Linked DNA regions of Homo sapiens: all the other regions are linked to region 4. Evidence: fine-mapped expression QTL. A gene starts in region 4. Each other region holds a variant in brackets. All regions are shown on one strand. Distances are from middle to middle. Region 1 overlaps CYTH1 (cytohesin 1). Region 2 overlaps RBFOX3 (RNA binding fox-1 homolog 3). Region 3 overlaps USP36 (ubiquitin specific peptidase 36). Region 4 holds the start of USP36 (ubiquitin specific peptidase 36).

What was found. PIP is the estimated chance that this variant, and not a neighbour inherited with it, causes the effect. A credible set is the group of variants that fine-mapping cannot tell apart.
Region 1: its variant is the best candidate, but not a certain one, in a credible set for the expression of USP36 in esophagus mucosa (GTEx, PIP 0.79).
Region 2: its variant is the best candidate, but not a certain one, in a credible set for the expression of USP36 in uterus (GTEx, PIP 0.60).
Region 3: its variant is the best candidate, but not a certain one, in a credible set for the expression of USP36 in whole blood (TOPMed, PIP 0.57).

What each region holds. Positions count from the first base shown.
Region 1 is chr17:78,757,136-78,764,702 of GRCh38, forward strand. The region is part of intron 1 of CYTH1 (cytohesin 1); the gene reads right to left. Among named protein-coding and RNA genes, the nearest start is that of CYTH1, 21 kb to the right of the region's middle. The variant C/A (reference allele first, on the strand shown) is at 4,079.
Region 2 is chr17:79,554,832-79,562,398 of GRCh38, forward strand. All of the region lies in intron 1 of RBFOX3 (RNA binding fox-1 homolog 3), which reads right to left. Among named protein-coding and RNA genes, the nearest start is that of RBFOX3, 52 kb to the right of the region's middle. The variant G/A (reference allele first, on the strand shown) is at 4,474.
Region 3 is chr17:78,813,417-78,820,983 of GRCh38, forward strand. USP36 (ubiquitin specific peptidase 36) reads right to left here. Exons shown (of 21, transcript NM_001385174.1): 9 at 6,514-6,596; 10 at 5,251-5,362; 11 at 996-1,136; 12 at 357-457. Among named protein-coding and RNA genes, the nearest start is that of USP36, 24 kb to the right of the region's middle. The variant C/T (reference allele first, on the strand shown) is at 3,884.
Region 4 is chr17:78,837,327-78,844,893 of GRCh38, forward strand. USP36 (ubiquitin specific peptidase 36) reads right to left here and starts at 3,488. Exons shown (of 21, transcript NM_001385174.1): 1 at 3,410-3,488; 2 at 1,261-1,424. It overlaps LOC124904067 (a long non-coding RNA gene), which reads left to right and starts at 3,788. Exons shown (of 2, transcript XR_007065923.1): 1 at 3,788-7,567. RefSeq lists enhancers at 942-1,456, 1,457-1,971, 3,566-3,755 and silencers at 2,896-3,415, 3,876-3,975.

The DNA.
Region 1 (7,567 bases), 80 kb before region 4:
GACAAGGTTTCACTGTGTTAGCCAGGATGGTTTTGATCTCCTGACCTCGTGATCCACCTGCCTTGGCCTCCCAAAGTGCTGGGATTACAGGCGTGAGCCACCATGCCCGGACTCAAGGTTTGAATTTTCAACATAACTTAAGAAACCCTCATCCTTTGGGGGGATGACCGTGAGTGCAGTTTAAAAAAAAGAAAAGAAACCCTCCTATGAATTAAACAGGTCTTGGTTAGAGGTCAAAGTTCTCCTTCTAATTAGAATGTAAGGTACCTGAGAACTCTATTCATGTCTAAATTGCAAGGCCCATAGAGTGTCCAGCTCATTATAGGTGTTCAATAAGTATCTGTTGAATAGATGAATAAAAAACGACCTGGGAAAGAAGCTGCTATAATTTTCCCATTCTAATACATGTAAACACTAGCCGAGGTTCTTAGAACAAAGTTCATTCTGCCAATGCTGAGAGAGGCAGGAAAAAATTTTAATTATATCAGCAACCCAAAAGATTAAAAAAATATTCAGCCGGGTGCAGTAGCTCATGCCTGAATCTCAGCACTTTGGGAGGCTGAGGCGGGCAGACTGCCTGAGGTCAGGAGTTTAAGACCAGTCCGGCCAACATGGTGAAACCCCTTCTCTACTAAAAATACAAAAAAAATTAGCCAGGCATGGCTACTTGGGAGGCTGAGGCAGGGGAATTGCTTGAACCAGGGAGGTGGAGGTTGCAGTGAGCCAAGATCGCACCACTGCACTCCAGCATGGGTGACAGAGCAAGACTCTGCCTCAAAAAAAAAAATTCAAAAAAAAGTTTAAAAAAATAGTAATTCAATGTCAGGAAGGATAAATTAACAAGTATCATCATATACTGGTATGAGGTGTAAACTGATTCACACTTTCTGAAAACCCATTTGGCAGTACATATCAAGAGACTACAAAGTTAAACTCCCTAACCCAGTAAGTCCACTTACAGGAATCTAGCCTAAGAAAATCACTGGAAATGTGAGCAAAACTTTATCCACAAGAATGTTACAGGATTCTTTCTTACAGGAACAAAGTGGAAACTTCTAAATAACAAGACAGGATGATTAATTAAACTATGCTCCATCTATATCATGCTGCCTTTGGCCGAGGCCCCAAGCATCCCTGCATGTCCTTGCTGAGAGTGCCAAACTGCAAGGTCTGTCTTCTTGTAGCTGGCGACATGAAGTTGGTCAAGGAGACTGTAGCATGACATGCCCCCATTGAGGAGAAGAAGCCTGGCCTGTCTATCACTTGCTATAAAAAGTGCTAAGCCCAGGCCCGGTGTGGTGGCTCACGCCTGTAATCCCAGCACTTTGGGAGGCCGAGGCAGGCAGATCACCCGAGGTCAGGAGTTCGAGACCAGCCTGACAAACATGGAGAAACCCCGTCTCTACTAAAAATAAAAAATTAGCCGGGCATGGTGGTGCATGCCTGTAATCCCAGCTACTCGCTAGGCTGAGGCAAGAGAATTGCTTGAACCCAGGAGGCGGAGGAGGTTGCAGTGGGCCGAGATTGCACCATTGTATTCCAGCCTGGGCAACAAGAGTGAAACTCGAAACTCCATCTCAAAAAAACAAAAAAGAAAGAAAAAAAGAAAGGAAAGTGCTAAGTCCTTGGTGGTCCTTGGTTCCTCAGCTGTAGGCAAACCCAATTCATGCATAGACATCATCTGGGCCCATCATGTCACCCCACGAGACTTGAGGTCAGGGGCACCAGCACTTTCATGCTGATATTCCTGCTATTTGCTGTGCGATGTGTACTAATCTGCCTCATTCTGATCCAGTAGGTCTCGTTATCTACTTTCGGCATCCACGGAGTTATGGCATGTGCTTGTGGCCCTAGCTACTCAGGAAGCTGAGGTGGGAGGATTGCTTAAGCATAGGAGATCGAGGTTGCAGTGGGCTATGACAACACCACTGCACTCCAGCCTGGTCAACAGAGTGAGATCCTGTCTCAAAACAGAAAGAAAATTTCCATAATAATAATTTTCTCAATGTTTGCCAAAGTGCTAAAGTAAGAAGGGCACAATTGTAGCCAATCGAAGCCCACTGCCTGAGGTGGCTTCATTTTCAGACTATATGGCAACTGCCCCGAGGAAGGACTAAAAGGTACTCTCCAAAGACACTCTGGGTAAGTGGACGCAGCCTCAGTTCTTCGTAGGTCTCATGCGCCTAGCAGTCTACATCCCAGCGCCAAGCCTCTCTTTCATCCAACGGGGTAGGCAAAGGGGTCTTTTTAGGTTGCTTCCTCACTGTTGTACAGATCAGGGCTCTAAAACTGGCACCTGGCCACTGGCTGCCTAGCAACAGCTGCAACATAAAGAGACGGTATCTCTTAAAAGGAACAAAACAGAAAACCACACAAAGACACATGGGGAAGCTAAAGTGGGTAGGTAGCTATATACTTGGTAGCTATAATAAAGGAGTAAAAACAAAAATCCAAGGTTGGTTATTCTTGCTTCTTTCATCTGTTGAGCCTCTTCTTAAAAACCTCTGTAAGTTCAAAACCCTCCAAGCGGAATACTGAATGGCTTAAAGCAAAACCACATAAATTAGATAGTTACAGCTGAGGAAATGCATTCAACACTCAGCCATCCCTTCCTACAATCATGGACGCACAAATTCTTGTGAAATCATTTTATACACTCAACACGGGAAATGAAGGGAAGCATCTCTGGCCAGGCCAACTCAAGCCAGAGCCTGCCTGTGTGATGTGACCTTGGAGAGAACAGTTAGAGGTTCTGAAGCGTGAGTTTCCACACCTGGGGTCCCCAAATTTAGGGGCATTAGAAGTATATTTGTGTGCATGTGTGTACAAGCATGTGCATGTATGTACGTATTTATTCATTCACTCATTCCTGGATCTGCCCTGGTACGTTTGGTATGGCTAGAGTAAGGAACCAGAATAAATGGCTTTTTTGAAAGATTCCTCCAGGGATTCTGCGGGTTAGTCAAGTATGGGAACCACCATTCTAACCCAAATTTACTAGATTACGAACTTTAAAAGGGAAGGCTAAACAAACCACTTCTGCATGTTCATCTGCCTAGGACATCTGCTACCACAATTGCAAAAGGTGCCCATGTGGAACGGAAAATACATGGTTGAATTTTACAAATTTAGACATATAAAGCTAAAAACTCAAGAAACACTGAATTCCCTCTTTTGACTACTGATGTTTTAATTCTGGCCTCTATCCAAATAGCAGGTTTATATATATATATATATATATATATATATACACACACATACATATATATATGTGTATATATATATATATACACATACATATATATATGTATATATATATACATACATATATATATGTATATATATGTATGTATATATATATACATATATATGTATATATATGTATATATATATATACATACATATATATGTATATATATATGTATATATATATACACATACATATATATGTATATATATGTATATATATAGTTTAAAAGAAAGCAACAACATTCTACTATCTTAAAACCCTCTTTTCTAAACACTAGAAAATCAAAAATCGCATTACAACAGAACTTAAGACTTTTAAATAGAAGTGAAAAAGTAATTTTACACAAAAAGCATCATATACTTATCTTTCTAAAAGTTACAGGTATCAAGTAAGTCTGATGACATCACTTCTCAAAATCAAAATATATCCCAGATGCTCCTCAACTTACAATGGGGTTACTTCCCAATAAACCCATCGTAAAGTCAACCATAAGTCAGAGACAGTCTCTATATATTTTCTTGATAAATGGGATACCCACCTCCCGGGTTCAAGTGATTCTCCTGCCTCAGCCTCCTGAGTAGCTGGGACTACAGGCATGCACCACCACACCCGGCTAATTTTTGTATTTTTTGTAGAGACAGAGTTTCAACATGTTGGTCAGGCTGGTCTCGAACTCCCGACCTTGTGATCCACCCACCTCGGCCTCCCAAAGTGCTGGATTACAGGTGTGAGCCACCGCGCCCAGCCTCGCGATTTCCAAGTTTTCAGTCACATAGCAATGCTACAATAAACACCCTTGTGCACACATTCTGGTACACAACAGCAGTT[C/A]CCCACCTTCTGAGTCCCAACTCAAGAGGTTCTTGTTTTCAGATTTCAAGTTTCAGATCTCCAAGGGGAACTAATTCTCACAGGAACTGCTTTTTCTAGTCCTGCTCTAGGCTGGAATGGGGTGATGTGTAACCTATTTTTGTGTTAAAATCAATTGACCTTGGGAACGTGATAATACAGGGAACTAAAAGCACTCACACTACTCAAAGCTTATTAAAACCTCTTTAAAAATCAAGAGGCAGGGGCCAGGCGCGGTGGCTCACGCCTGTAATCCCAACACTTTGGGAGGCCGAGGCGGGCGGATCACGAGATCAGGAGATCCAGACCAGCCTGGCTAACACGGTGAAACCCCGTCTCTACTAAAAACACAAAAAATCAGCCGGGCGTGGTGGCGGGCACCTGTAGTCCCAGCTACTTGGGAGGCTGAGGCAGGAGAATGACGTGAACCCGGGAGGCGGAGCTTGCAGTGAGACGAGATCACGCCACTGCACTCCAGCCTGGGGGACAGAGCGAGACTCCGTCTCAAAAACAAAAAAAAAAGAGTGTTATTTTTAAAAACTTTTTAAAGCTTAAATTCCTCTTATTAGAATGCTATACACACACATTTATACGTTTGAGAAAACAGTAGTCCAAAGCAAGAGCAGGAAAGGGAAAGAACAGTAGTAGTCAGCTAGACATTTGGTTTTGTATCCTTAACATCTATTCTGAGTGGAAATTAAACCAAATGAGCCTTTAACATAAACGTTTGAAAGAGTAACAGCATCTGGCCTGCTTCCTCCATACAATGAGGTGTCCATCATGTGACATGGGGGAAAACAGCAGATTTCTGGAAAAATAATTACCAAATAATGTTGTGCCAACATCTTCTAGAATAATAAACTTCTTTTTCCTATCAAGGTCCATTGTTCAGGGACATTTCCATTACCTGACAACAGGAAAAATTATCTTTACTCTCAGAGTACAAAAACATTCCTAAGAACAGAGAGCAACAACATAACCTTCTGACTCAAGATAGTCTCTGTTCCGGTAATTTGATGACAAATAGTGTTGCTGATCAGCAGAATATAGAGTGGAAAGGGCGGCTTTTTTGCACATGCCTTCCCCTACCTTTGAATTAGGAGCACTCTTCTAAAACTAGAAATGCTTCACGAAGTCAGACAAAGTCTACAAAGTACTGCAATACTTAATACCCATGAGGCACACTTCCATAAGAAGAAAATGATATGCAGGAAGGATTAAACTGCCCATTCTCACAAGAAACATTCCATGGGCAAAGGCACTAAGGTAGATGTATAGATGTAGTCGGCAGGATAATGGTCCCAAAGATATACATGTCCTAATCACTGGAACCTGTGAACATGTTAAATTCCATGGCAAAAGGGGATTAAGATTGCAGATGGAATTACATCTCCTAATCAGCCAACTTTAGAAGAGGGAGATTATCCTAGAGTATCCAAGTGGGCACACGGATTCTTCCAAATGGAAGAGGGAGGCAGGACAATCAGTGTCAGAGTGATGAGAGGTGAGACTCAATCAGCCACTGCTGGCTTTGAAGATGCAGGAAGGAGCTAAGAGCCAAGGAGTGTGGGCAGCCTTTAGAAGCTGGAAAGGTAAGGAAGTAGATCTTTCCCTAGAGCCTCCAGAAAGAAACACAACCCTGCTGAAATACATTTTGGCCCAGTGAGACCCATTCCAGACTTCTGGCCTCCAAACTGTAAGATAATAATGTATATTGTCTTAAGCCACTAAATTTGTGATAATTTGTTATGGCAGCAACAGGAAACTAATACAATGGAAATGTCCGTCCGGCTGCTTTCTGGATGTTTTTAATCTCAAAAAAAGACTTTTGGCCAGGCACGGTGGCTCACGCCTGTAATCCCAGCACTTTGGGAGGAAGAGGTATGTGGATCACCTGAGGTCAGGGGTTCGAGACCAGCCTGGCCAACGTGGTAAAACCCTGTCTCTACTAAAAATACAAAATTAGCCAGGAGTGGTGGCATATGCCTGTAGTCCCAGCTACTTGGGAGGCTGAGGCAGGAGAATCGCTTAAACCTAGGAGGCAGAGGTTGCAGTGAGCCGAGGCCGTGCCAAAAAAAAAAAAAAGACTTTTAATCCCTCTCAAGATACACACATTTATATACACATTTGTCAAACACCTTAATACTTCCTAGAATAAAGTGGATTCACACCACAAATCACCTTACTGTAGGTTATAGAGTAGTCCCTCCTTATCCACAGGGGATACTTTCCAAGACCCCCCACGGATGCCTAGACCACAAATAGTAGTGAACCCTATATACAACATGTTTGTTCCTATACATACATACCTATGATAAAATTTATAAAGTAGGCAGAGATTAATAATAAACTAATAATAAAGAACATTATAATAAATAATAAAGAACAATAAGTTGTTCTATAAAATATGCTGTAATAAGAGTTACGTGAATGTAGTCTCTCAAAATATTTCCTTGTACTATACTCACATATTTTCAAACCACAGCTAACTGCAGATAATTGAAACCATGGAAGGTGAAACCATGGATAAGGGGGAAAGTATGCTAGCCTCCTCTTAAAGAATTTATTTGCTACACTCATCTTTCAAACATAGAATAGGCCAGGCGCAGTGGCTCACGCCTGTAATCCCAACACTTTGGAAGGCTGAGATAGGCACATCACTTGAGGTCAGGAGTTTGAGACCAGTCTGGCCAACATGGCCAAACCCTGTCTCTACCAAAAATAAAAAAATTAGCCAGGCACAGTGGTGTGCGCCTGCAGTCCCAGCTACTCGGGAGGCTCAGGCAGGAGAATCGCTTGAACCCGGGAGGCAGAGGTTGCAGTGAGCCAAGATCCCATCACTGCACTCCAGCCTGGGTGACAGAGCGAGAGTCTGTCTCAAAGAAAAAACAAAACATAGAATAATCATTTTCTTCTTTTTATAAGCTCACAACTAATACCATAAAATAATATTTCCATCTAAATGTCTTTTTTTTTTTTTTTTAAGACACAGTCTTGCTCTGTTGTCCAGGCTGGAGTGCAGTGGCACTATCTCGGCTCAATGAAACCTCCGCCTCCTGGGTTCAAGCAATTCTCCTGCCTCAGCCTCCTGAGTAGCTGGGACTACGGGCGCACCCCACCACGCCCAGCTAATTTTTGCCAGGATGGTCTCTATCTCTTGACTTCATGATCCACCCACCTCAGCCTCCCAGAGTGCTAGGGTTACAGATGTGAGCCACCGCGCCCGGCCTAAATGTCCCTTTTTCAAGATTTGTACTGAAATCTCTGAATGCATAAAAAATGTCTCTATAAACTTCCCAGCAAGTCAACAGTGAGGAACTCACTAACTGGTTATCAACATAAGCAGTTTCAGCAAGAACCAGGCTTATATATAAACCCCAAAATAATGGAAGAATGAAATTAGATGTATGCACGAGGTAAGAGGGATCTATTTTAACTGCAACTCCCAAGTTTCCATGAGCAATTTCAGTG
Region 2 (7,567 bases), 720 kb after region 4:
AGACACCACCATGAGGTGGGGTTTCCTCTCCCTCTTTTATGGAATAGAAGACCCGGGCTTAGAGAAGCTAAAGACTTCTCCAAACCATAGAACATCAACGGACAGAACTCAGCCTCATGAACAGCTAAAATGTACAGTCACAAAAAGCAAAGGAAACCAGCCTGAGGGGAACAAAGAGGGTCCACAGGGCAGGGCAGCCAGAACACAGGCTTGAGTGTCAGGCAGACTTGAGTTGGAATCAGATCTGCCACCACTAGCTGTGGGACCCAAGGCAAATAGTTTCTCTGTGCCTCAGATGTTTCACCTGTGAAATAGGGAGAAGAGTATCCATATCCCCAATGGATGACTGTAAAAATCACATGGGTGATAGCTATCACATACCCAGCACAATGCCTGGCCCATGGTAAGCACTCGGGAAGTGGTGATAGTGATGGCCATGGTGGTGGTGGTAGTGGTGGTGATGGTGGTGATGATGGTAGTTGTGGTGGTGGTGATGGTGGTGATGATGGTAGTTGTGGTGGTGGTGATGGTGGTGATGATGGTAGTTGTGGTGGTGGTGATGGTGGTGATGATGGTAGTTGTGGTGGTGGTGATGGTGGTGATGATGGTAGTTGTGGTGGTAGTGATGATGATGATGACAATGATAATGGTGGTGATGACAGTGGTGGTGGTGGTGGTGATGGTGGTGGTGATGGTAGTTGTGGTGGTGGTGATGGTGGTGATGATGGTAGTTGTGGTGGTAGTGATGATGATGATGACAATGATAATGGTGGTGATGGCGGTGGTGGTGGTAATGGTGATTATGTCAGTGATGGTGGTGGTGGTGGTGGTGATGGTGATGATAGTCATGATGGTGGTGATGGTGGTGATAGTGGTGGCAATGGTGATGATGGCAGTGATGGTGATTATGATAGTAGTGGTGGTGGTGATGGCGATGGTAATGGTGATAATGGCAGTGATGGTGATGACGGTGGTGATGGTGACGATGATGATAGTAATGATGGTGGTGATGGTAACGGTGGTGATGATGATGATAGTGGTGATGGTGGTGGTAGAAGGCAGTGGCAGCAGCAATGGTGTTGGCAACAATGACAACAATTACATTATCCCAGAACTCCAACTACAACAATGTCACCAAAACCCAATACCATACAGTGAAGACAGGCCCCATTGGAAAGATGAATCAATGCCCACAGAGCAAAAGAAATGGAAGATTCTAGAATGTCAGAGCGGGAAAGCATACTTGCAATCATCCAGACGCAATTCCTCCACTTTACAGACGGGGAAGCAAAGACCAGGATCAGGAGAGCAGTTTACCCAAGGTCTCACACCTGCTACCAGCCAGGCCTAGAGAAGACCAAGTTTTCCAAACCAAGCTGGTCTCCACTCCTCCCTCCCTGCTGACCCCTCAAACACCAGTGAGCACTTACTCTGGGCAGGGCACTGGCTTAGGTCCTGGGAACCCAAAGAAATGAATACAGGAAGGGGACGTCAGGACATAAGGCAAAATAGACAGCAGTTCCATTCGGTGGCAGGAGGAGGAGTGCCCGTGTGGCTCCGTAAAGCATTTGAAGGGCCGAGGAGGGGACAGACCATGCTGGAAACAGGGTTGATGGAGGTAGCTCTGCCCAGGCCGCCCACAGGAAGGCTTACAGGGAGCTGTTGGGGAGGAAGTGTTGATTTTAACACAAATGAGCGACAGGAGGAGGAGCTGTAACCACATCCAGAGTGGGTGGGGAGAGGAAATCAAGTACACAAATTAGGGCTGATGTGAAATTAACGGCTACTTAAAAGACTCGAACTAATTTAATAACTTTGTCAGTAATGAAAATATATGAACTAGGAAGAAAAGACGGGCAAAATATTTACTGGCAAAAGGCAAAATAAGCAAATATCTGAGAAGGCAGCACATCTATCAACGTCTTGAGATGGCAAAATTCCTAGGAAGGGAGGGACTTTCTGGAGGCACAGAGTCCACCGAAGGGGAGCGTGGGGAAGGGGACAGAATCAAGGACTCCTCACTAGCAGGGGTTGCTGCTGCCCAGGGGTTCACCCTGTGTCCAGCTGGTGCTCAGGGCTTTCCACGTCTGTCTCCATGGTCCCCAAAGAACTCTACTGAGAAACTGACAAGGCTAGTCATGGTGGCTCATGCCTATAATTCCAGCACTTTGGGAGGCCGAGGATGGTGGATCATTTGAGGTCAGGAGTTCAAGACCAGCCTGGGCAACATGGTGAAACTCCATCTTTACCAAAAAATATAAAAATTAGCCAGGCATGGTGGTGGACACCTGTAATCCCAGCTACTCGGGAGGCTGAAGCAGGAGGCAGAGGTTGCAATGAGCCGAGGTCGCACCACTGCACTCCAGCCTGGGTGACAGAGTGAGACACTGTCTCAAAAAAAAAAAAAAAAAAAAAAAAGGAAAGGAAAGGAAAGAAATTGCCCAGAGAATGAGCAGGTAGCCTGGAATTCCAATCCAGGCAGTGTGGCCCCAGGCCCTGGACTGTTAGTCTCTATCTGGTCTGTTACCCCTGCCCACCCACCCAGCCATGGAGAAGCCAACAAGGGCCACCCTCCAAACCCCGAGAAAACCCAAGTCCAGTCTACTCACAGCCAAGCCCCCATCCCACAGCTGCAGTCTCTGAGATGATGGAACATTTCCAAAGAGACCACGTCTGGGGCCGTGGGAGCCCGGCGGTGGTGGGGGGAAAGGGGGGAAGAGTGGCAAGGACCAAGTGACAGCTGCGGATCCCCAGCCCATTTTCATAGGTGCCACCAAATTAGCGGCTGTTGGTGAGGCCGAAGAAACGAGTCTGAAGAAATGTTCTGTGTGAAATTGGACTAGATTGGCTCTGGTATCAACACAGGCACAGGCTGAGGGAGGCTGGACAGCCATAAACAAAGGCTAACGGCAGATGTCAGCGTATCGGGCAGGCGGGGGCATCTCGTGGGAGGCCTCCTGGGCCACTGCAAGGCCCCAGTTTTGTTTAATATCCAAGCTAATGATCTGGAAGACAACAGACAGGTCACGAGCAAAACCTGCCGAGGACGCAGGGGGTGGCGCTGCGGTTGTTTGCTGGGGCAAGGGGACGGCCGGGAGACAGAGGAGACCTGGAGGGAAGATAAGTAGCTCCCAAGTAAATTGAGATTCAGCTTGAAGAAAAATTACAAACACTCAAATCTAAGAGGAGAAAAAAGCAGCCTGAAACTGCTATTTTCTGAGCCGAGGAAACCCAGGAAGCAGGGAGAGGGGACAGACTCAGATCATCACGAGGTCCATCGCAGACCAGCTTGTGATGTCACACGGGGAGGGTGATTTGTGTTTTGTTCACTGTTTGGGGGCAGGAAAGACATACCCTCAGAGGAGCTGAGAGGGCCACGTGGCCCAGGCCCAGGGATCTACCTGGGTGGCCGCCTTTGCTCTGAGGGGCCTGGCGCAGGAGCAGGAAGGAAAATTGGAGTTCAGAAAAATATTTGCTAACACAGAGAGAGTGAGAGCCAGGATCTCCCGCCCTGTGTGCATGAGAGCCAACCCAGTGTCTGGTGACTGGCAGACAGCAGGGAACCGTCCGGAGGGTCCAGGCGCAGAGACCGGCTGGGGGCAGCTGAGGGGCGGGGCTGAGGGCCCCAGGGTGCTGGCGGATGGGGAGGATCTTCCAAAGCAGAAACACCAGGGCCCACACTTCCCGGCTGCCCAGGAGGGAGGCAAGACCACAGTCAGGACCAGCCCTCCAAGGTGGCTTCGGGCCCCTGAACACTTCCCTCCCGGCCGGGCTCCATGCACTCACTGCTTGAGAGGAAACCAAAATTGTCAGCCCGGACACATTTGGAAATTTACTGGAGCAGCCTTCCCCTGCCTTGCGGGGATTGGGTTAGTCAACCTGTTAACCACATATTCTCACCACCCACAGTGCGCGGAGGCTGCGTGGGCCTGCGGGGAGCAGGAGGGAGAGAGGAGGGACCGAGGCCAGCTGCACAAGAAGGACATTGACAATGGTGGGGGGTGTGCCAGGGGATGCAGGGCCAGCATGGAGGGCACAGAGAGGCTTGCTAAGGAGCAGGACCCCTGTGGCCCAGAGGCTGTGTGGATTCAACGTGGGCAGGTGCCCTCACATAGCAAGCATTTACCAGGCATTGTCCATGCCAGGTGCTCAGCTGAGGGGCAGCAGCTGGACTCCTGAGAGTCCCCACCAGGAGACCCTGGGAGCCCTGGCCAGGCTGGTCTCGGGCCTGGGAACCTCAGTCTTACACGGGCAGCAGCACTGATGACCTCACAATCTAGCACATTAATTGTTCTCACTGGAATAGAGCTCCCTGAGGATGGGAGGGGCGGGGGTTGTCTGTCTTTTTTTCCCATGATTGTCTTACTGGTGCCTAAAATAATACCTAGCATGCATTAAGTGCTTACTAATTATTTATAGAATGGATGGATGGGTAGATGGCAAATGGTGGGTCATGGTGGGTGGTGAGTGGGT[G/A]GTGGATGGTAGATAGGTGAGTGGCAGTTGAGGTGGATGGTGGATAGTGAATGGGTGGATGGGATGGATGATTGGATGGATGGGTGGATAAGTGAATGGGTGAATGGTAAGTGGTGGGTGGTGGATGGGTGGATAGTAGATGGGTAGGTGGATGGTGACTGATGGATACTGCATGATGGATGGGTAGGTGGTGGATTTTGTATGGGTGGATAGTGGATGGTGAATAGGTGGATGGGTGGATAGATGAATGGTGGGTGGACAGATGGGTGAGTGGGTGGGGGGGTGGATGGAGAGTGATGAGTGAATAGGTAGATGGATGGATGGGTGGATGGTGAATAGTGGATGGGTGGATGGATGGGTGGGTGGGTGGATGGATGAGTGGGTCGGTGGGTGGATGGATGGGTGGATGATGGGTGGTGGATGGATGGGTGAATGAATGGGTAGATGGATGGATGGGTGGATGGTGAATAGTGGATGGATGGGTAGGTGGGTGGATGGATGAACAGATGGGTGGGTGGATGTTAGGTGGTGAATGAATGGGTGGATGGATGGATGGGTAGATGGTGAATAGTGGATGGTGGGTAGGTGGATGGGTGGGTGGGTGAGTGGATGAATAGATGGGTGGGTGGGTAGGTGGATGGTCGGTGGTGAATGAATGGGTGGATAGATGGATGGGTGGATGGTGAACAGTGGATGGGTGGAAGGATGGGTGGGTGGGTGTATGGATGAATGAATGGGTGGGTGGATGAATAGGTGGGTGGGTGGGTGGTGGGTGGATGGATCTTGTGACACCCCGTTGCATCTTCAGCAACTCCTAGAAAATCAGGTCCAAAGTAACAGCCTCCCCCACCCACCGTCAATCTCCATCCCAGCCCCAAAAGACTGAGTGTAGAAGTGACTGGGCTGAAATGGTTGCTGGGTGGTCACCGAGCCAGAGCAAAGCACAGGGAAAGGCTGAGGGAGACCCGAAAAGCCTAAGAATGCCCAGCTCTCACATACACAGGGATACTTTGCGAACTGCAGAGCAGAGAACCCATGCAGGTATTCATGCTTCATTCGCCATCCCACTGCAAATGAAGTGCCCTCCCTGTCCTGCTGGCGGAAGGTGTGAGAGGGCAACCACTTTACTTCTCCTTGACTGTAGCCTCAGGACCAGTCAGAACAGGTACTCAAGAAACAGCAATTTCATTTTTATGTTTACCAGGACGGTGGGCACCTAATGAGCAGCTACTGCCCACCCGACCATGGCGTGTCCAGGAACATTGAAGAATACGCACTCCAGGGATCATGGGGTTCAGTGACTTATGTTCCAGCACCAACTCCCCACATCTAAGCCTGCCAGCCAGTGCTGTCACAGCAACCTCACCTCACCACAGCCAGAACACTCGTGGCGGGAAGCCGTTCAGTCTCCATCCACAGATGCCCCCACCCACTTCCCCACCCATGACAGCACGGCCAGCGCGAGAGCTGCAGCTGCAGGTGCTTCCCGAGCTTCAGCCTGTCACTGGGTGGCATGCGGAGGACTTCACCTGCGTCCTCTCCTTTTCTCAGCTGCCCCAGGGGGTAGGAAGGATGCTTGGTCCCATTTCACAGTTGGGGAAACGGAAGCTCATGGGGATTCAATAACTTGTCCAAGACCACGTGTGTAATAAGAAGTGAAGCCAGCATTTGGACCCCAGCCAACTCTATGGGCCAGGCTCCCCACCAGACAGAGCTGGGGGCGCCTGGCCTCTCCCACAATCAGCTGCACCCTCAAAGGAGGATGTGTTCACAATTCAAACAAATAGACCTTGCACTACAGTGAGTCCAAAAGAGGAGTCTCAAAATCTTTAGAGATTTGGAACAGATGCTTAGAACTTAGTAAGGTGACTGCTTTGCAAAGGGTCCTTTTGCCATTTTAAAAAAGTCACTACCATGTATGCCCCTGGGGGCTTAAGTTCACCACCGTGCTCCAAGGGTTCAAAGGGAGTGTCAGGGGTGCCAGAAATAGAGCCCAGCCTTGCCAGGGCTGAGCAGCCGGCAAGCCCAGCTTCCAGGAAGAAACGCTGGACAGTCAGCCCTTCCCCAGGCTCTCCAAATCCTAGACCTCCCTCTGCTCCAGTCACCCCCAAGGATTAAGGGTGAGCAGAGACCACCACTGCAGATTCAGATGACAGAGAGCAAGGGTCGCCAAACTCAGGAGTCCCCAGAGACACACGAACGAGGCTGACCCCACACCCCAGCTCCACGAGGCCACTGGGTCAGCGCCTTTCCATCAGCCGATGTCACCGCTGAAACTGAAAAGCGGTGCGTGTTGGTGACAGCAGTGAGTGCCCAGTGTATGCAGACCCCTCGAGGCAAGCACCACCCAGCTGGGCACTGAAGCAGGTGTCCTCACAGCAAACTCTGCAAAAGGAGCCCTCCCTTCATCCCGGCCCGAGTCACAGAGCAGCAACCAGCGTCCTGAGGGCAGCCCTCACCTCTTCCCAAGAGAGGGGCACATGAGGGTAGGGACTTAGACCCAAAGCAGGCTCAGGCTCCCGTCCACACCTGTGTCTGGTGGGGACGGGCAGGAACGCCCAGCAAAGATGTCATCCCTGGCATCAGGGGGAGGGACATTGGGCTTCCCATGCATGGTGCTATGAGTCCCACTGCTGGGTGGGCAGCAGAAGAGATGGGCAGCGGCCCACACAGCTCACCTCATGGGGACAAGCTAATCACTCCATTCCAAAATGCAAGCTGGCAGCCACTCAGCAGCCACCAAAGGCCACCAAAAGGGGCAGACCAGTACGTCTGTGACATGCATTAGCAAATTCATTAGTGAAATTAATTCTCCCCCTAAACAGCTGAGATTGTGTTAAACAAAGCCTTGTAGAATGGTTCGTGGACTCCTTTTTTCTTTATTCCTGCCTGCAAGGAATAGCATGCCGGCTGAGACTACTGGGAACCGGGAATGGAAGTCCTGAGCCCTCACCCGAGTCGGCGGCTTCCCCATCCACACACGGAGCTGAGTGCCTCTAGGGCCAGAGTCCTGTGGCTCTCTCCGCCGTCCATCTCCTCTCTTGAGTACTTGAGCCTTGTCTTTTTTTCTTCCTCTCCCCTTGAAAAATCAAGT
Region 3 (7,567 bases), 24 kb before region 4:
CACGTCCTTCCCAGCATATCCCTACAGGGGCAGCTTCCCCACACGGGAAGGGGCATTGGCTGGCTACCATCCAGGGAGCAGTACCTCTAATTTGGGGCAATACTATAAATGGTGACTTTCCTGTTTACATTCAAAACAGCATCAATGTGAGGGCAGATGGGATCCTGTCCTGACCTTCCCAAGGCTCTGGCTTTACTAAAAAGTGTCCTTCCCTGTGGACGGTCTCTATGACACATGACAAATCCCTCCAGTGGAATTCCCAATTACCTTCAAACAAAAAAAGGTTAGGGAGGCCCACCGGTATAAGAAAAGAGCAGAGGGAGTGAGCTCATCTGGGGAGGGCGTGAGTTTATTACCGCAGATAGAACAGCACGTAGGCCTGCTGGTTCAGAACCACCTTGACGTTGCTGGAATGGACCAAGGAATCATTCATCTGGTACCACTGTCCATTGCTTGCCTGAAGCAGCCAAGGATGTTGCAGAAAACAAAACAATCAACAAGCATCCCATTATCCTCACTTTTTAAAAAGGGAATAAAAAATCTGTTAGTTGCTACATTTCCAAACACTATTAATAATCAACAGGTAACAACTTCTATTAAAACGTGTAATATTTTCATAACTCGGAATGTGACCCCAAAGTGTGCTCTGCGTCCCAGTTCCTTCCTAGTGCCCCAACAGATAGGAACTGTCCCTTCTAAAGGACATTCAGGCAGTGTCATCACCATGGCCGATTTTGCCAGGGTTCTAAGGATGGCACCAGAAGCGGCTGCCTCTTCCGTGTCTCCCTGCAAGTCTGAGAACACTAGATTCTGGTGCAACACTTCTGTAAAGGGCATCTTTTCACTCCACGCAGAGAGGCAACAACGAGGACTTGAATACAACCACAAAACATCACACTTTTCACAAAGTAAGTGCTCTACAGAGGCCGCATCTGGATGTGCATGGGTGCTGAAACCTGTCCCAGGAGGCAGCTGCACTGACACAAGCCTCTCACCTTCACGTAGCAGTAATAGTGCCCGGCATGGCAGCTGTAGCCCGAGTGCACCAGGACAGCATAGAGTCCATACATGACAGGATCACCATTATTCTGGGACATATACGGACGTATGTTGAGGAATTCCGGATAGCCTACATCCTGTTTGAAAAATCAAGGAAAAGACAAATAAAATTCACTTTGAGAGTAAAGATCAATTTGCCCTTTCCATCCACAACCACACAAAATGCCCAGCTTGTCTGGTCTTTAACAATTTGGGGGCCGGGCACAGTGGCTCACGCCTGTAATCCCAGCACTTTGGGAGGCTGAGGCAGGGGGATCACCTCGAGGAGTTCGAGATCAGCCTGACCAATATAGCGAAACCCCACTTCTAATAAAAATACAAAAAATTAGCTGGGCATGGTGGTGCACTGCCTGTAATCCCAGCTACTCAGGAGGCTGAGGAACAAGAATCACTTGAACCCGCGAGGCAGAGGTTGCAGTGAGCCGAGATCGAGCCACTGCACTCAGCCTGGGCGACAGAGCGAGACTGTCTCAAAACTGCCCCGCCACAAACAAGAAAAAGACAATTTGGGGCGAATGGGTGTGCAGCAACGCTGTGCAGGAGCTCCCCCAGGCAATGATTAAAAACCAAGATGCTGGCCAGGTGCGGTGGCTCACGCCTGTAATCCCAGCACTTTGGGAGGCCGAGGCGGGTAGATCACAAGGTCAAGAGATTGAGACCATCGTGGCCAAGATGGCGAAACCTTGTCTCTACTAAAAATACAAAAATTAGCCAGGCGTGGTGGCACGTGCCTGTAGTTCCAGCTACTCAGGAGGCTGAGGCAGGAGAATCGCTTGAAACCAGGAGGTGGAGGTTACAGTGAGCCGAGATCATACCACTGCACTCCAGCCTCGCAACAGAGCGAGACTCCATCTCAAAACAATCAAAACAAACAAACAAAGAAAAAACACCAAGATGCTGAGAAGTGAGTCTTCTCCAGCCAGCCTATGGGAAACTTTATTGTCCCATCAAGCAATGCAGGATCTGTTCTTGTCTTTGTCAAGCATCTCCATTAGTTCTCTCACCACCTGGTTCCTAACGATCAAATGAGAAGGGTCACTCATTTTCTTTCCCTCCACTTTACAGGAACATTGTTGGTGGGAGAAAAGGGAGAGAATGCTGGGTTTTAGATCTTCAGAAATAAAAGTGCTGAATTAATATAGCCAACTGCTACCGCAAGTAAGACTTTTAATCAACTGGATCAGAAGAAAGGTCATGCTAAAATGTCTTCCCAAAACTGACCAATTTTTCATAGAAAAAAATACACGCACACATATACATAACATGCATACATATATGCATACATGCACGCATAAAATACATGCACACATATATACATACATGCATACATACATCGTATACACACATGCACACATATATACATACACACACACATATGCATGCATACACATGTACGCATATACATACATGCACAACACATACATGCACGCACACATGCATACGCACACATACACACACATATACACACATGCATGCACACACATATACATACACACACATATAATACGTGCACACACATATATACATACATGCACACACATATATTCTTAGCAGTAATAGTGCCTGGCATGGCAGCTGTAGGCTGAGTGCACCAGGACAGCACAGAGCCCACATGACAGGATTGCCATTATTCTGGGTCATATACAGACGTGTGTTTAGGAACTCCGAAAAACATACGCATAATTTTTTTTTTTTTTTTTAAGAAACACAGTCTCGCTCTGTCACCCAGGCTAGAGTGCAGTGGTACATTCATAGCTCACTGTAACTTCAAACTCCTGGACTCAAGCAATCCTCCTATCTCTACCTCCCAAGTAGCTGGGACTATAGGCACGCGCCACCATGACTGGCCAATTAATAAAAATTTTTTAGGCCGGGCATGATGGCTCACACCTATAATCCCAACACTTTGGGAGGCCGAGGTGGGTGGATCACTTGAGGTCAGGAGTTCAAGACCAGCCTGGCCAACATGGTGGAACCCCGTCTCTACTAAAAATACAAAATTTAGCCAAGCATGGTGGCACACATTTGTGGTCCCAGCTACTTGGGAGGCTGAGGCAGGAGAATCGCTTGAACTTGGGAGGCAGATATTGCAGTGAGCTGAGATGGTGCCACTGCACTCTAGCCTGGGTGACAGAGTAAGACTCCGTCTCAAAAAAAAAAACAAAAAAACCAAAATTTTTTTGTAGAGACAGGGTCTCACTATGTTGCCCAAGCTGGTCTTAAACTCCCAGTCTCAAGCAATCCTCCCACCTCAGCCTCCCTAAGTGCTGACATTAGAGTTGTGAGCCATTGTGCCCAGCCTAAATCATTTTTTTAAACTGAGTTGTGGGATTTGTTGAAATGCATAGATCTTCAGTATATAGATCAAAGAGTTTTGACAAGTATATACTGATGGACATGCAGAACATCAACTAGAAAATTCCCACATCCCAGTCATTGCCCCCATCTCAAATATTCACTGTTCTGATTTCTGTCACCATTAATTTTGCCTGTTCTTAAACGTCACATACCATCAGTCATGTGCCACATAACATGTTTTGGTCAATGACAGACCACATATACAACAGCGATCCCATAAGATTATAATACTGCATTTTCACTGTACCTTCTCTATGTTTAGATACACAAATACTTCCCATTGTGTTGCAACTGCCTACAGTATTCAGGACAGGAACAGGCTGTGTAGGTTTGTGGCCTAGGAGCAATGGGCTATACCATACAGCTGGCTCCGTCATCTACGTCTGTGTAAATGCACTCTATGATGTTCACACAGTGACAGAATTGCCTGGTGACACATTTCTTAAAACATGCCCTTGTGGTTACA[C/T]GACACCTGAGTCTACGACATTAAGAATCTGCAAACACATTTGAGAAATGCTGACCTAAGCAAGCCCCCACCACTACCAGTGAGGAAACGGAGGCTCAGCCAAGGGTGTCATTCCAAACCACATAACCAGGCTCTCAGAACAGAACTCTAGATTTTTATGAGATACAGACATCTACTGGGCACGGTGGCTCATGCCTGTTATCCCAGCACTTTAGGAGGCTGAGGCAGGCGGATCACCTGAGCTCAGGAGTTCGAGACCAGCCTGGCCACCATGGCAAAACCCCATCTCTACTAAAAATACAAAAATTAGCCAGGTGTGGTGGTGGGCGCCTTAATCCCAACTACTCTGGAGGCTGATGCAGGAGAATCACTTGAACCCAGAAGGTGGAGACAGCGCCACTGCAATCCAGCCTGGGCATCAGAGCAAGACTCTGTCTCAAAAAAAAAAAAAAGAGAAAAAAGAAAAAAGAAACACATCTTCTATGAAAATGCCACTATAGGCCAGGTATGGTGGCTCACACCTGTAATCCCAGCACTGTGAGAGGTCAAGGCATGCAGGTCACTTGAGCCCAGGAGTTTGAGACCACCCTGGGCAACACAGCAAGATGCTGTCTCTACAAAAAACTTTTTAAAAAATTAACCAGGCATGGTGGCATGTGCCCACAGTCCCAGCTACTCAGGAGGCTAAGGCAGGGGGATCGCTTGAGCTTGGGAGGTCAAGACTGTAGTGAGCGCTGATTATGCCACTGCACTCCAGCCCAGGTGACAGAGTGAGACCCTGTCTTAAAACAAAATGAAATTTAAACAATAAAATACCATCGTGTCAAAAGTAGTTTTTCTAAACTCCATATTTCATAAAAAGCCAGAGCATGCAACGGCACCTGTTCTAGACATCAAAAGGACATGGACAATGCAAGTCCCACCGCCCAGTGCTCATCACACTCATCTGGAGAACCCTGAAAGTCCCTGCCAGGACCAGCCCAAGCACAACCAGAAGCTGCGGTAAATCCATTAAGACAGTGGCCCTGGAACTTGACTGTGTATAACAAGCATTCAGGGATTTTGCAAAAATGCAGATTCCTGGGCCCTGTCCTCCAGAGATTCAAATTCACTGGCACTGGGATAAACCCAGAAACGTCTATTTTTAAAAGGCGTCCCAGGTTGCTTCCCCTCTCTGTGACTGTCTTCCCGTCCTGGACAAGGGCGAAACTACAGTCCCTACTTCACAATATGTGTAGAACCTTTAGAACAGGGACAGGTACTGTGTAAACAGCAGCTATCAAACTCGTGGCTATCACTTTCTTCGTGTTATTCTGATGCCGACTGTGGCCCACGGAGCTGCCTGGGATGGTGTCACGAGCGCTCACCTTGGTGATCTTCCCCCCGCTGAAGTTGGCAAAGCGCTTGAGGGAAAGGGTTAAGACGTTGGATGTTCTGTGGATGGTGAAGCGCTTGCTGGCTGGAACCTTCTTCTTGCATCTATGAAGAAGGTGATGAGAAAGATTAATGAATGATTGATTCGTGCTCTGAAAAATGTTGTCTTAACGCTAAGTTAATAACAGCAACAACTGCTCTGTAATAGTGGAATCTTCATCAATGAGATTTCGACCTTCTGCTCCTCTCAAAATCACATTAAGCATGCCTCAAGTAAAGGAAAGCTACCACAGGGAAATAAGACTACAGAAAGTGGGAAGATTCTAAAGCAAAAAAATAAAAGTACTGTACCCACCAGGAAACTAAATAAAATACAGGAAAAAGTTGCTTTGGGCCAACACAGGAAAGAGCAAATTAAAGCAGATGTGGCTGAGTGATAAAACGGGCAGGCAGGAAGTCAACGTAAGCAAAGCTAGAAGATGCGCAAACACAGGGAGAGAAAACAGAAGCAGAGGCGCGCAGCTTGGAGAGCTGCAGGAAACAGACCTAAAGAAGAGTAAAGCAGAATTAAGAATATATTCTTTAGTGCCTACAGCTTTACAAGGACCTAGATATAAAGATATTCAGCCGGCTGTAGTAGTGTGATCCCAGCACTTTGGGAGGCAAGGCAGGAAGATCACCTGAGTTCAGGAGTTCGAGACCAGCCTGGCCAACAAGGTGAAACCCTGTCACTACTAAAAATGCAACAAATGACAAAGTAAGAGTTCTATCTGCAGAAACGGAAAAATGTCCAAAACCAGTTAAGTAAAAAATGAAAGCCAAAGAAAACACTCCTTAAGAGGCAAGAGAGCAGCTGGTTGGGCACAGTCCCTGGGGCGGCCGCCCGGTGCCAGCCAGTGTGAACTGATGTGAGCTCGTGCTCTGCCACGTCCTCTTGGTGTGGCCCCATGGCTGGTCACTTCACTTCTCTGTGCCTCAGTTTCACCATCCCTAGCAATGGGAAACCACAGCCCCTACTGCACAATATATGCGGCATCTTTAGAACAGGTATGGTGTAAACTGTAGCTATAAAAATCATAGCTATTGCTTCATTCGTGTTATTTAGAAGTTTGAGTTTTTAGGACACACATAGGTTCCTCAAGAAATGCGAGCAGCGGTCACCGCTAAGGAAGAGTGGGTGGGCACAACACTGTCAGGTGAGGGGACTTATTTCCCGTCTGGTATCAGTCTTCTGCCACAAGCAACGTGAAACTTACTTAGCACACATGTAGGCATTCTCTCCACTCAGGACATCTGCTTTCACAAAAAGTTCCAGAGCACGCACAATATTCGCAGCTTGCTGAGGAGGACAAAAACAGGGAGTAAAATACACAGCAGAGGAAAAAGGCTGATTCAAGAAATGCCAAATTTAAGGTCTTTTTTAGGCTGAGGCAGCAAATCACAGAACTTAGACTCGCATAAAAATTTGCCCACTAGCTGCCAGATTGGGACTCCTTCTCCAGAGACAAGAAATGAAAGCAGCCAGGAACAGCGGCTCACGCCTATAATCCCAGCACCTTGGGAGGCCGGGGCAGGAGGATCATTGAGGCCAGGAGTTTGAGACAAGCCTGGGCAACATAGCAAGACCCCTGTCTCTGCAAAGAAATTTAAAAAATTAGCCAGGCGTGGTGGTGCATGCCTGTAGTACCAGCTGTGTGGGAGGATCACTTAAGCCTAGAGGTCAACACTACAGTGAGCTATGATTGCGCCACTGCACTCCTGCCTGGGCCACAGAGCAAGACCCTGTCCCTCAAGCCCCTATAAAAAAAAAGCAAAGCAAAGAAATGACAGCTGCAGGTCTGCCATGAATCAGTCACTTTTATCAGGATGATCTTGTAGCTGGACCTGCTCTGGAGCTTGGGTTGGCCCAGCAAAGGCAGACCACCCTCCCGCACCCTGTAGCTGCAGCAGGATGTGCGACAAAGCCAAGGCTGCTCTCCCAGGTGAGGCCCACAGAGCCACCAAGCTCCAAAGGCTGCACGCCGCCCAGAGCACACAACAGACTCTCCTCAAGCCCTGGGGACAGCGTTGTTCCTGTTCATGCTTCAGGACACAAAACCCAATTTTACCATTTTTTTCTTTAAATAAAAGGATACGCTTAGGAAAAACTCTAGAAAAAAACAGGTAAAGACAATGGTCTGTACTGCAAGGCGGCAGGGAGCAAAGGAGTTTTCTCCCTATCTATTTTGATCTGATGCCTTTACTGTTCTGCGGGTTCTGTTTCACCCTCTGGCCTCGCTCTCCTACTGCAAAAGTGAAGGGCAGGACAGA
Region 4 (7,567 bases):
CAAAAGAGAAGAAGAAAAGCCAAGCAGGAGAGTGGGGAGATCACAGGCTTTGGAATGTGGTGGCCCCGGGAGGTTCTATCATCCTTAGCTATGAAACCCAGGGACAACTACTATGACTTCTCCAAACCCCCTATTCTACTGTAAAATAGCAACAAAAATAATAGGCTTGGGAAGTGCTTTAGAGCTTGCTACATACTACAGTCCCTAACAGAGGATCGATACTGTTGGTGCAGCTGCATGGAAACTGTAACCAAGAAGAGACCCCTGCACCTCTCCAATCGCTACCTTTGTATCCACCACTTGCCCTCCCCTACCCACCACCTCTCAACTTAACCTTCCCAAACACAGCACAGACTATCTGAGTCACAATTTCAAAAATATGTCCCTTAAATTGCTCACTCACATCAGAAAAATGATGACTTCCTCTGGTATTCAGTACCCAGCCTGCCCTCAGAGAATCAACAAGTCAAGTGTGCCCCAAAATTCTGCTCTAGTGAAAGTAAGGACTTCCTCCAGCACCTCATATTAAGCCATTCAAATTTATCACTGTGGATCATCTAATTCTATACATGGATCAAGTATCTTTTTCTACAAAAACTTCTGTAAAGAAAAGCCAGGTGCAGTGGCCTGGGCCTGTCGTCCCAGATGCTTGGGAGGCTGAGGTGGGAGGATAACTTGAGGGCAGGAGCCTGAGGCTGCAGTGAGCTATGATTACGCCTGTGAATAGCCAGTGCAGTCCAGCCTGGGCAACATCGTGAGACCCCATCTTTAAAACAAAAAAAATCGTGGCTCACGCCTGTAATCCCAGCACTTGGGAGGCCGAGACGGGTGGATCAGGAGGTCAGGAATTCAAGACCAGCCTGGCGAAGATGTTTCTCTACTAAAAATACAAAAAAACTAGCCAGGCATGGTGGCAGGCGCCTGTAATCCCAGCTACGCAGGAGGCTGAGGCAGAGAATTGCTTGAACACGGGAGGCAGAGGTTGGAGTGAGCCGAGATCGCGCCACTGCACTCCAGCCTGGGCAACAGAGCAAGACTTGGTCTCAAAAAAAAAAAAAAACAAAAAACAAAAAACTTCTGTAAAGAAATTTCAGAAGCTTATTTAAAAAAAAGCATTATAAGTTGTCTGATTTGAGAAAATAAAAGAGCCTTTTCTCATGAGAATTATCAAAGACTTCTCACCAACTGAACAATCACTGCTGCGTCACATGCAGACAATTCAACGGAATCAAAAAATACACAGAAGCCTCGCAGACTCACCTGGGATGTGCAGACTTGGGCCTGCTGTCCTACTGCGGCATGGAACCAGGATCTTAACGGAGGGCTGAGTTTGGTTGGGCAGGTGCTACGCGGAGCTCCTGAATGTAAGCGCTCCTGGACTGTGGCCTGTTCAAACACCGAAGCCGCAGAGCGGGCGTCAGAGCCTGTGGGAGGGACAGGGAGACCATCAGTGGAGGCGACTCTTCCTGTGCCTTCTCTTCAGCTACTTCCCAGGGATGCGGCGCGCACCGGGAACCCTCTACCACGAAAAAGCCGTCCAAGGAGCATCCACGCGTGCACTCAGGATGAGGCGGGTGGACCGTACTACCTCATCACCAGTTGTTGTAATGCACACGATATGAACACCTTAACCTTGACCCCAGACAAGCCCAGAGAAGGAAAACCTCCCCAACACCTGCCAGTCAGCTCCAGTCTAATCTTATTTCCAAAGAGTAAGAGGTAATAAATCCCCAAGTTTTGGATTTAATGAACCAGTAAAACTTCAATAACAACAACAACAAACCTCAGGGAGTAATAGGAGTTGCCAAAATTTTGCTTTGCTAAGTGTGGATTTTCTCTTTCATTACCATCTACGATCACTATGATTACATAAAATTAAGGTTCGTAAAAACAGTTTACAGTGAAAACATTCAAACACACAGATGGAGAACCGCACAGGGAGCACATGAGCCCCCCTTATTCAGCCTCAGTAACTACATCTGACCCATCCTGAGTCACTTCCCATCCCCAGGTAATTCTACAGCAAATCTCAGACCTATGACTTCATCCATAAATAAAAGCATACCAACTCCCGAAAAATGTGTAAGGAAATGATCTCAGAATAAAAGCCATCTACAAAGTGAAGACATCCAGTCGTATTAAAAACTCCCCACAATATCACTGCTTTCGGTTAGGACTCACATCTACCCTGGAAGGTGAGAACTCTGTCATGCACAACCAACGCTTGAGAACCACTTAGGGAGGGGATAAACGAACCTTGGGAGATGTAACCCAGTTTCACTCGAGATAAGTAACTTTGAACTTAACCCACTCCTTAATGTAGATGCAGAGATTTTGAACACAATTTTTCAAGTGGGACAGGTCAATCTCTACTTCACCAATTCCACCTAAAACATTAAGCAATAACCTAAACAACGCTCGCTCGCTCTCTGACGTGTAGGAGCCCGAGACAAGTGTTCCTGTAATCACTAGCAATCCCTCCGACGCACACACCATCCACACTCTACCCAACTCAGGAAGGATGCTCTCTCTTGTCCAAGGACAGCACAGGCCTCATCCACATTTCCACCTGCGCGAACCCCAGCCAGCACCATTTAGGCTCATTCCCGCTCCCTCCTCCTTCTAAAGTCACTTTTCCAGGATGAACTGCAACGGACGCTCGCAGGGTCAACCACGTGCTGGGGAGAGGAGCCCACGGAAGCAGCGGCCTCCCGGGGCCCAGCGCCGCGCTCCAGGGGCCTCCCGGGCGACTCCGCAGCGCCTGCCCCGAGCCCGGCCGCGGACACAGCGACCCGAGCACCTCTCCCCGAGCATGGCTCCGTGGCGAGCGTTACGTAAACGGGGGCGCGCGGAGTCTCCCCTCTCGTGTGTCTGGGTTTGGCGGCCGCCACTCCAGCCCCAGGCCCAGGACCCCCACGCCACCCGCCAGAAGCAGCAGCATCGGAACCGCACCCCGCCCCGGGCTCCATGGCCTCCTCCGCAACCACGAGGAAGGTGCCCGCCCCGGGGCCGCACCCGCCCCGCTGAGCTCTGCGGCCGCACGCGACGCCCTCGCCCTGATTCCGACTTCAACCTCTCCGAAGTTGACCTGAATCCTGCACAGACAGCGGGCCCCGGCGACCCCCATCACCGGCCCGGAGCCCGGGGGACGGCGGAGACCGGCGAGGACAGCCCGGCCCCGGACCCTCCTCGGGAATACCCGGGCTCTGGAGAAGCGAGCTCGCGAGCGGGCGGAGCATCCCGGGTCCTCCTCGGGGACGGCCGAAGCCCTGCGCGGACCCGCGCCCACGTTCTCCCTGAGCGTCCCGGCTGCGCCCGCCAGCCCTTCCCGCGCCCCAGGCCTCGCGGAACCCCCCGCCCCGGTCTCGTCCCCAGGCCTGCGCACCGCCCCGACCCGACCCCAGCCTACCCCGGCCTCTCCGCGGGCGCGCCACAAGCCTACGCAGCCCTGGCGACTCCTTCGGCCCGCGGCCCAGCACGCGCACCATCCGGGCCTCCGGCGCCTCACACACGTGTCACCGCGACGCTTAAAGGCGCCGCACCCAGCGTTCGCGCTGCGCTAACTCCGAAAGGGTTGGGAGGCTTTAAGAGGCGGGGCTAGATTCCGCTAACTCCCTGTCCCCGCCCACCGCCGCTTCCGTGTCGCCTACGTCACCTCCCCATCACGGGACCCCGCCAGCCTACGTGATGACGCAAGTGCGCAGAGCCACAGGCGCTCCCGCCCCTGTGCCGCGGCAGGGTGACGTCTCCGCAGCGCACTAGAGGTGCCGCTACTTCCGGGTCGGCCGAGCACACCTGGCGGCGTGGCGGACGCCTGAAGTGTGACAGTGGCGCGCGCCCCCGCCCCAGAACGGGGACTCGAGGGACTTTGCCCACCCCTGCAACAGCCCTCCCGCGCTGTCTCCCGGGCAGGGAGAAGGCTGGGCTCCCCCACCTGCCCCTGGCCGTCAGGTGGCTGTGGAGAAGCGGAGGCGCGGGCGCTCGGCCTTAACGTCCCGGGCTCTGGGGCCATCCGTGACTCCCACACGCGGAGCACCTGCAGTTTGGGGAGGGAGGGATCTGGGAGCGATCGGCCAAAGCCTGGGGCTGCCGAGGAAATGGCTCTTCGGAATTAGGGATCTGAGAGTGTGAGATTTGACCTTTGTAGGCTGGTGGCGGCTGTGCAATCTCTAGCTCCACCCACTCCCTCCAAAAGCTTTGTCCTCTGACAGCTCTGCGAAGGTTTTAGCTGAGTATTTGTGAGCACGTATTTCTTTTGCAGTATTTTTAAAAATCCTCTTGATCTGAGGCAACTTCGCTGGCTTCCTCCCCATTCCCTTGGGCAGGTTGAGAGTGTTGGTTCCTGGCCTGACCTCAGAAACTCAGAGAAGCACAGGATGGGCATAAACTACTTTATCCAAAAGGCAGAACTTTGCAAACACAGTCGTATCTGCTGTGTCTTTTTTGATGTAAGTAGGAATGATGAGTAGGGTGAAGTCACAGGTAAACAACCCAAAACGAATTTCCATGCCCTCCCCACGGATCCTAAAGCAGGGACTGGAGATGGGGAGAGAGGCTAGATGTACTTGGAACAAAATTCACCTTGTATTTATTACCTGGGCGCTGGTGTTTTTTGAAAAAAGCAAACAAGATAACCATATTAGTCTGATGCTGAGACTATGCCCTATCTGTAAGAATCCTTGGGCTGGGCGCGGTGGCTCACCCTTGTAATCCCAACACTTGGAGGCCAAGGTGGGCGGATCACCTGAGGTCAGGAGTTCGAGACCAGCATGGCCAACATGGTGAAACCCCGTCTCTACTAAACATACAAAAATTAGCTGGGTGTGGTGGTGGGCGCCTGTAATCCCAGCTACTCAGGAGGCTGAGGCACGAGAATCCCTTGAACCTAGGAGGCGGAGGTTGCAGCGAGCTGAGATGTCGCCACTGCACTCCAGCCTGGGCGACAGAGCGAGACTCCGTCTCAAAAGAAAAGAAAAGAAAAGAAAAAAAGGCAGGGCACAGTGGCTCACGCCTGTAATCCTAGCACTTTGGGAGGCCGAGGCAGGCAGATCGCTTGAGGTCAGGAATTCCAGACCAGCCTGGCCAACATGGTGAAAACCTGTCTCTACTAAAAATACAAAAATTAGCTGGGTATGGTGGCGCACGCCTGTAATCCGAGCTACTAGGGAGGCTGAGACAGGAGAATCGCTTGTACCTGGGAGGTGGAGGTTGCAATGAGCTGAGATCGTGCCATTGCACTCCAGCAGCCTGGACAACAGAGCAATACTTGGTCTAAAAAAAAAAAAAAGAAAGAAATGCAACGTAGGTCTCTCACGAAATTAGCCCAAATCTTCAGCCATCTTCTACAGGCTGTGAAACCAGGAGAGGAATTGAGTCCATCTTACCTTGACCTCCCAGGCAGGGAGCGGACCAGGTAATTTTTGGGTGACAATACAACTATTCTGTTAATGCACCTTTTTCTTGAGGTAAGTTCTAATGTGATCCGTTTTGGTTACAGCTTTCTATAACAGAATATTTTATTCTTTCATCTTTAATGTTTCTCTAGTTTTCTCTTTTAGGATTTAGAGATCATTCAGTCTCATCTCAAATATTTCAATTTCCATGTGGTTCTTTCATAAACATTTATCCACAGTGAGCCTGCCCTGCATTCTTTGGGTGTGGCTGACAGTTGCAGCCACCCTCAGGTCTGCGGGGGTGGGTGTGTTGCCCCTGAACTGCAATAGCAGAATTTCTCCCTAGCCTGGCAGGGGAGTGCAATCGTGGACTTGCTTTTCCACCCGCTGGGGTTGCATTTCATAGGTGCCGAGTGCCTGGGGGGCCCAGGCCTTTTCACATGAGGGTTTTCAGCCCAGATGTCCCTCCTGCTCTAGGGGAACCCTTCACATCAGTCAGGTGACTTGCTGGACTGGTAGAGCCTCTGCCATCAGCCTCTGATGCAAAACCTTTTCTCAGGTGTCTGTGCGGTCCATGGAGACCCGAGTTCCCAGGTTTGGGAGGGATGCCACTTTCCTTAGGAAGAACAGCAATGTATGTCGTCCTTCCCATCCATGCAGATGGGACAGGGCTCTCAGGAAATCTGCCATTAGCATCGCCCTAGAAGATGCACAGGCAGAGGCAGCTGCTGGGCACAGGCACTTGGGGAAGACAGGAGCCATGACGCCACGCCACCTGTTGGTACCCAAAGGAAGTGGCTCTTTTGGCTGCTTGGCACCATTCTTATGACCCTTCCATTTTGTTTCTAGTCTCAGAAGGGGTGGAGAAAGTCATCCTTCCTAAATGGTGTTGACTCTCAGACATCTGACCGTGCCAGGAGAATGGCTGTGCAAGGCGGCAGCCCAGGCCCGGGCAGGTGGCGGCCAGGAGTTGGGACCACAGAGGGCACTAGCAAGAGCAGCAGCTGCTCCGAGATGCTTTGGCACAAGTCAGGATACGTATTTTGTAGTTTTCTCTTGTTTTTTATTTTTCTGAGGTGGAGTCTCACTCTGTCGCCCAGGCTGGAGTGCAGTGGTGCAATCTCAGCTCACTGCAAGCTCCGCCTCCCGGGTTCAAGCGATTATCGTGTCTCGGCCTCCAGAGTAGCTGGGATCACAGGTGCACGCCACCACACCCAGCTGATTTTTGTATTTTTAGTAGAGATGGGGTTTCGCCATGTTTGGTCTTGAACTCTTGGCCTCAGGTGATCTGCCCCCCTCAGCCTCCCAGAGTGCAAGGATTACAGGCGTGAGCCACCGCACCCCACCTCCCGGCCTTTTCTCTTGTTTCATTTTGGTAAACTAAATTAGTTTAATACCTCTACCCCATCGGTGGTTGGAATTCCCCACCTCAATCATTTTGGGGGCTCTCTGCCTCCTTTGAATAGGACAGATCTCCAGGGGTTTACCCAGGCTCCGAAGAGCCACTCCAGGCAGCCGGCTGTTTGGGGAGGTGCACCCTGGTCTTCTAGTCTGCGGATTCCCTGCATCGCTCCCCTGGTACTGCTCTCAAGCTCAAGGGTCACCTCAGCCAGATGTGCCCTAGGCTGGCAGAGGTCCTTCCCCTAAATGCAGCTGGGCAGGATGCCACCCTTTCTACAATAAGTTCGGTCCCAGGGATTCCCCCAACACACACACACATACATTCTCTCTTACTCACATCCTCACACACACTCACACACCCCACCACACTCACACACTTTCAAAATCCACCGACTCTCACGCTCACACTCGCCAGCCCTTTCCCTTGCTCTGTCACTTCCCTCCAAGTCCCCGCCCCACACAGCCTCCTGCAGTCCCAGCCCCCTTGGTGCCAGCCATCTCTGGTGCCAGCCATCTCCCCCAAATATCCACCCTTCTGGGCTCCTTTCTGCCCAGAGGGACCTGAAGTTTCCCTAGGAAGCACTTGCTAAAGGCCTCCAGTCTCCAACTCCTGGGGAAGAAGGATCCAGGCCTCTGCCGCACAAAGCCTCCACTGTTCTCTTGGGGCTGGCACCCCTTCCTGTGGCCCTGTGGCACCAAACAAATTGATTCATCCAGCGAATATTTCTTATTTACTCTGTTCCACATGGTGGTGAGTGAATCAACCCTGGACT